Homo sapiens: one gene and its partner. Changing the gene in region 2 together with the main gene of any one other region gives a genetic interaction. Each region holds a gene or a part of one and is shown on either strand. Other genes may lie near its edges.

Region 1 (3,651 bases), on a different chromosome or scaffold from region 2:
GCACCTGGACATTTTTTTTTTTTTTTTTAACTTGAAAGAACAGCTAACAGACAGATTAGAACAGAATTGGCTATTTGACAGATTTTCTCAGATGAACTGTGATAGTCATTTCAAGGGAAGTAGCTGCAAGCATTTGTTGGCTGAAATAAAATTTAAGTTTATCATGGAAAATTAGAATTTGAAAAAACTTAGAGTTTACCACTTGACAGTATCCTAAATACATATGACTTTTCTGATGAGTGCCGATATTAATGAAGGTTATTTAAAAAATATTAAATAATGTATAATTCTTTTTATATAACAGTTAAAAATAAAACCATGAGTACTAGAATAAAACATAGGTGGCTCTTTAATCTTGGTTTGTGAAGGTATTTTTTAAAATAAGAAAAAAGCAAGAAATCACTGCTAAATTTGACTATTAAAATTAATTTATCACAGGCACAAAAATGTTAGAAAACTAATGGCAATAGCAAATATATATATATGAGGATTGGTATTCTCAACATATAAAGCACATTTGCACATCAACAAGAAAAGAATATTTCTCCTAATGGAAATAGTGGCAAATACATGAGCAGTCAGTTGAAAAAAGAAGTAATACAAATTGCTGGCTGGGTGTGGTGGGTCACGCCTGTAATCCCAGCATTTAGAGGCTGAGGCTGGCGGATCATCTGAGGTCAGGAGTTCGAGACCAGCCTGACCAACATGGAGAAACCCTGTCTCTACTAAAAATACAAAATTAGCCGGATGTGGTGGCGCATGCCTGTAATCCCAGCTACTTGGGAGGCTGAGGCAGGAGAATTGCTTGAACCCAGGAGGCGGAGGTTGTGGTGAGTCGAGATCGCACCATTGCACTCCAGCCTGGGCAACAAGAGCGAAACTCCATCTCAAAAAAAAAAAAAAAAAAAAAAAAGGAAGTAATACAAATTGCCAATAAATATGGAAAAAAAAAAAGGCTCAACTTTATTTGTAATTAAAGGCCTTTAAGTTAAACTTAGGTGTCATTTAATTTTTATTAAATTGGCAAATATTAAAATTAAGCATAATTCTTAAGCAACTCTCGGTAGGTGGGAAGAATCTAGCTGTAGCCTCAGGCGTTTGTGCCTCAAGGAAAACCCTCTCTGGGATGTCCATTGCTTGAAGTCAAAGGTTTTCCAATAATACCTGGAAACTATTTTTAAAATGCTGATCCCCATACCCTCAAAATATTAATAGAGACAATCGTGAGGACTATAATAAAGAAATGTGCAATAAGCTCTGGGGGCACAGAGGGAAGAATCTATTGGCTGAGGAGTTGAAGAAATTGTTTGGACACTCAGTATTGCCTGAGCTCAAAACTGAAGGATGAATAAATGCCACATGACCTTGGGGCTGGGGAGTAAGTAGGGTTATGCAGAGAGAGATAACTGAGGCTTTTGGGCAGACGAATAGTAACGGCTCAGGCATGGGAGTAAAGGTCATTTAGAGATTTACAAGAATTCAGCATTTCTTTCTTTTTCTTTTTTTTTTTGAGATGGAGTCTAGCTCTGTCATCCAGGCTGGAGTACAGTGGCATGATCTCAGCTCACTATAACTCCCACCTCCCGGGTTCAAGTGATTCTCATGCCTCAGCCTCCCGAGTAGCTGGTATTACAGGCGTGTACTACTGTGCCTGGCTAATTTTTGTATTTTTAGTAGAGATGGGGTTTCACCATGTTGGTCAGGCTGGTCTCCAACTCCTGAGCTCAAGTGATATGTGCACCTCTGCTCCCCAAAGTGCTGGGATTACAGGCGTGAGCCACTGTACCCGGCCAAGAATTCAGTATTTCTATCCAAGTACCTGGGGGATAGATGTGCTACATGAATATTTATTGCATTCATTTTGTTCTCTGCATTTTTTTTTTTTTTTTTTTGGTTTGAGATGGAGTCTCGCTCTGTCGCCCAGGCTGGAGTGCAGTCGTGCAATCTCGGCTCACTGCAGCCTCCACCTCATGGGTTCAAGCGATTCTCCATCTTGGTCTCCTGACTAGCTAGGTTTACAGGCGTGTGCCATCACACCCACTAATTTTTTGTATTTTTAGTAGAGACAGGGTTTCACCATGTTGGCCAGGCTGGTCTTGAACTCCTGATCTAAAGTGAGCCTCCCACCTTGGCCTCCCAAAGTGCTGGGATTACATATGTGAGCCACTGCGCCTGGCCTCTATATACTTCTATAGTACCTGATACTTATTAGGCACTCAATTACAACATAACTTTTTTTTTTTTTTTTTTTTTTTGAGACAGAGACATGCCTTGTCGCCTGGGCTGGAGTGCAGTGGCACAGTCTCGGCTCACTGCAACCTTCACCTCCCGGGTTCAAGTGATTCTCCTTCCTCAGCCTCCCGGGTAGCTGGGATTACAGGCGCCCGCCACCACGTCCAGCTAATTTTTTGTATTTTTAATAGAGATGAGGTTTCACCATCTTGGCCAGGCTGATCTCAAACTCCTGACCTTGTGATCCACTCACCTTGGCCTCCCAAAGTGCTGGTATTACAGGTGTGAGCCATCATGCCCGGCCCATATTTCTAAAAACATTTTCTTATAAAATGACATTGCCATTATCAACCTGCAAAATACAGTTTCCATTTGGTTGTTTTCTTGCTTAGTCTTTTAATCTAGAGTTTTATACCTTATCTTTTTTATTTATATATTTTTTATGTCATTGACTTTTTGCAGAAACTGAAGCACTTGTCCTGTAGATTGTCCAATATTCTAGATTTGTCATTTTGCTTCCTTGTGATGTCCTTATGCTTATTTGTTTGTCCCTCTTTCTGTAATTAGAAGACCTAGAACTGCACTATCCTTAGAGTAGCTACTAGCTCTATGTAGCTATTTAAATTTAAATTAATTAAAATTGAAAAAGTTTGGTGGCTCACACCTGTAATCCCAGCACTTTGGGAGGCCAAGGTGGGAGGATTGCTTGAGTGCAGGAGTTCAAGGCTTCAGTAAGCTACGATTGTACTCTAGCCTGGGAGACATCAAGACCCTGTCCCTTTAAGGGGGAAAAATAATTGAAAAAATCAAAAACTTAGTTTCTTGTTTCACAAGCTGCATAGGGCTAATGGCTACCATATTGGCTAGCACAGCTTATAGAACCTTTCCATTGTCACAGGAAGTTCTGTTTGGCAGTGCCGTTCTCATTAGACCTGATTCGATTAAGGTCCATCTTTGTTGACAGAGTACTTCTTAGGTGGTGCTTTGTGGTTCATATGATGATAGCCTGGTCTGTTCATTCATATATCTTTTCACGAGAAATATTTTTATTCCATTCTGAATAAAATTTCATGGCAGGTACTTGCAAGAAGCAGTTATAATTTTAAAAGTTTAACATTAGGTTAAAAAATTGACAGGAAACATATATTCACAGGAAAACTTGTACACAAATGTTCATGGCAGCATTATTCATAATAGCCAAGAAGTGGAAACAACCCAAATCAATTTATGAATGGATAAAATGTTGTATATTTGTAGTACATGTAATATTATTCAGCCAATAAAATGGGCCAGGCATGGTGGCTCACACCTGTAATCCCAGCACTTTGAGAGGCTCAGGCAGGGGGATCACTAGAGGTCAGGAGTTTGAGACCAGCCTGACCATCATCACGAAACCCTGTCTCTACTAAACGTACAAAA
Region 2 (3,651 bases):
AATACCATGCAGGATAAACACAGAAATAACTGGGGTGCACCTAATTTAGAATGGGGGTGTCAGGTACGATGTCAGATGCTCATGAACCTTGTCCCATGGCATTGTCTTCCCAACAGCCAGCAGAGTGTTTGTTGCATGAATGAAGAAGGAATGCTTGGATGAGGGCTTGCCCTCTTTCTTGCTGTAGAAAGTGAGATTTGGTGCCCAAGATCACACAAGCTGGCAAGTGAAAGTGCTGGGGTTGGACCTGGGGTCCCCTGAGTAGCTTCTGTTTTGTATGCAGCTGGCCTGCTACTCCCTTGGCACCATCGGGGAAATTTCCACATTCACAGTGAATATTATTTCAGCCTCTGCTGTCCTCCTCTCTCCTCTTGACCGCTCACATGCTGCCTGTCACTGTGTGACTGTCTCAGAGCTGAATGAGTGTTACCAGTGGAAGGTGTCCAGGTTCTTGGCACCTCAAAGAGTTGGACAAAATGCACAAACAAAGCAAGGAAAGAATGAAGCAGCAAAAGGAGAGATTTATTGAAAATGAAAGTACACTCCACAGTGTGGGAGTGAGCTGGAGCATAGGGGCTCAAGGGCTCCTTTACAGAATTTTTTAGGGTTTAAATACCTTCTAGAAGTGTCCCGTTGGTTACTTGGTGTACACGCTATGTAAATGAAGTGGTGGCTCGCAATCAGTCTGATTGGTTGCTGAAGTGAAGTTACAAAGTTACACTTCTATGCAAACGTCTGTTTGGTTGTAAAAATCAAACCAATCAGAGACACTTTCAGTTTTCCATCTGCCTCACAGAAAAAGCGGAGAGTGGTTTGTGAAGGGAGTAACCTCCGGTCCTTTTGTTACTTAGGTGTGGAAAGTTGGGGTTTTCCTTTTGATTTAGTTCTAGGAAGTCAGCCTGAATTAGTCTTAGGTTCCCTGCCTCCAGACCCTGTTCTCCTGCCTCAAGAGGACTGCCTTTCATTTCTAGATCAAAGGAATCTTGGCTTGGCTTGGTTGTTCTTTGAGGCATGATTTTTACTCTCTTGAACACTTGTCATTTTCTTGATTCCTGATTATTTTCCTCTTTCCTGCGTTCAGTTCAGTTCAGCTAATACTGGACATGGCACTTTATCAGGTGCTTCTAAAAATGTAAGGAGGAACAACGTTTGAGCCCTGGCCTCCTGGAAGTTTTAATTTGTAAGGGGTGACAGATATACGCACAAGGAACTATATACAAGGTAGGATTCAGACTGCTGATGGGGCCTGATGGCTTTCTGGAAGAAGTAGCATTTGATGGTGACTTCAGATGATCTGGGATTTCAGTGGTGGCCCAGGAAGAGAATGCAAAAGAAACAACATGAGCAGGCTGAGCACGGTGGCTCACGCCTGTAATCCCAGCACTTCGGGAGGCCGAGGCGAGTGGATCATCTGAGGTTGGGAGTTCAAGACCAGCCTGACCAACATGGAGAAACCCCGTCTCCACTAAAAATACGAAATTAGCCTGGGGTGGTGGAGCGTGCCTGTAATCCCAGCTACTCGGGAGGCTGAGACAGGAGAATTGCTTGAACCCAGGAGGTGGAGGTTGCAGTGAGCCGAGATCGGGCCATTGCACTCCAGCTTGGGCAACAAGAGCGAAACTCCATCTCAAAAAAAAAAAAAAAAAAAGAAACAACATGAGCAAATATTTGCAGCAAATCAATAAATGGTCCTTTTAGACTGAAACTTGGTATAGCAGTTTAGGATTAGTGAGAGCTAGGACCAGAAAGCTAGGTTGGCTGCCACCTTGGAGTGAGAACCTCGAATGCCAAGGTGGGCAGCTTATGCTGGTGTAGTAGAGTTCCATTTTAGTAACACAGTCATCTCTTACAGAACTTTCCTCTCCAGAGGATGAGGTATCAGGTTGTTCAGCTTTGAGTGTGCCATCTAGGTGCTATCAGCTAGCACCTTCAGGCTCTAATCTGCTCCTGGTTGGTTTAATAACAGAAAAATCTGCCAACCTCAGGAGTTTTTTGTTTGTTTTTTTTAACCAAGAATAACTTTCTTCCATGAAACTGCCCCTAAGAGAAAGTGTTACATTGTTTTCTGAATCTATATGGATGAGAAACAATTGTCTGTTATAGGAATGAGCTTCAAACAGATGGAGGAAATTATTATTTTTCTGTTAGGCCTTGTGTCCCGAAACCGCCCTGAGGAGGAGGACCAGTATTGGCTGAGTATGGGCAGAACGTTCCACAAAGTGACGCTGAAGGATAAGATGATCACAGTGACGCGATACCTTCCCAAGTGAGTATTTGGATATTTAAAGTCTTCAGTTATTGTCCTGAATTATGGCCACATACTAAATTGTGTGTATAGTACATCATTCAAACTGAGGAAGTTCAGTGGTTGGTTTTTCTTTTGGAGTTTTGTTTGTTTGTTTCTAGGGTTATTTTAGGGTTATAGCTTACCTACTTCCAAAAGGGATTTGATTCATCTTATAATGTTTAGCATGATTCATGACAAGCCTATTTCAAATAAAGATTGTGAGGAGAGAAGAAGGAAAGAGTTTAAGAAGATCTGAGAAATTTCTAGTACCGTTCCCTGGGATAAGTTGGTTACTACAGTTGAGGGGTAAATGTCAAGGATGGTTCTAAGTGTATAGAGATAGAAAATAAGAATTGGCAGGAATTTGTCTCTAACTCTTTTGAATTTGGGGACCTGCCCTTTATTTTGCAGGTATCCTTATGAATCTGCCCAGATCCACTACACCTACAGCCTCTGTCCTTCCCACTCAGACTCAGAGTTCGTCTCCTGCTGGGTGGAATTCTCCCACGAACGGCTGGAGGAGTACAAGTGGAATTACTTAGATCAGTATATCTGTTCTGCCGGCTCTGAAGACTTCAGGTCAGAGAGTGGGCTTTGGATTTCCATCTTTGCATCCTTGGGCAAGGATGTGTATGTGTATTTTAACACTTTCTGCCCTTTCTCTCTCTCTCCCTTTTTCTTTTTTTTTTTCTTTGTAAAGAGACAGGGTTGACTGGGCGCGGTGGCTCATGCCTGTAATCCCAGCAATTTGGGAGGCCGAGGTTGGCAGATCACCTGAGGTCAGGAGTTCGAGACCAGCCTGGCCAGCATGGCAAAATCCTGTCTCTACTAAAAATACAAAAATTAGCTGGGTGTGGTGGTGCGTGCCTGTAATCCCAACTACTTGGGAGACTGAGGCTGGAGAATCGCTTGAACCCAGGAGGTGGAGGTTGCAGTGAGCCAAGATCAAGCCATTGCACTCCAGCCTGGGCAACAAGAGTGAAACTGTCTCAAAAAATAAATAAATAAAAAAAAATAAAATTAACTGGGCATGGTGACATACCCCTATAGTCCTAGCTACTCAGGAGGCCGAAGTGCTTGAGCCCAGGAGGTCGTGGCTACAGTGAGCCTTGATAGTGCCACTGCACCCTAGCCTGGGCAACACAGCAAGACCTTGTCTCAAAAAAATAAAATAGGTTAATGTGATAAATTTTTTGTTATGTGTATTTTGCCACAGTTGAAAAAACAAACCCCATGAAGCTCAGGGATGACGTGCCCTTGATGCAAGTGGCAGTGCAGATTGCCTTCTTAACGTTCTCTCCACTAGTTGGCTGGTAGCTTTGTGACGCCTGATTTTTAATTTTTGATTTCTATGCATGATTTGT

The links. A genetic interaction does not mean that the proteins touch.
Region 1: changes in DEPDC5 (region 2) and RAB1A together harm fitness more than expected from each alone (negative genetic interaction), as found in Homo sapiens cells (one large-scale study listed by BioGRID).

The regions. Positions count from the first base shown.
Region 1 is NC_000002.12:65,099,005-65,102,655, reverse strand, and holds part of RAB1A (ras-related protein Rab-1A), read left to right. Parts: intron 1-3,651. UniProt on the Homo sapiens protein: The small GTPases Rab are key regulators of intracellular membrane trafficking, from the formation of transport vesicles to their fusion with membranes.
Region 2 is NC_000022.11:31,840,947-31,844,597, forward strand, and holds part of DEPDC5 (GATOR1 complex protein DEPDC5), read left to right. Parts: intron 1-2,148; coding exon 2,149-2,266; intron 2,267-2,698; coding exon 2,699-2,866; intron 2,867-3,651. UniProt on the Homo sapiens protein: As a component of the GATOR1 complex functions as an inhibitor of the amino acid-sensing branch of the mTORC1 pathway.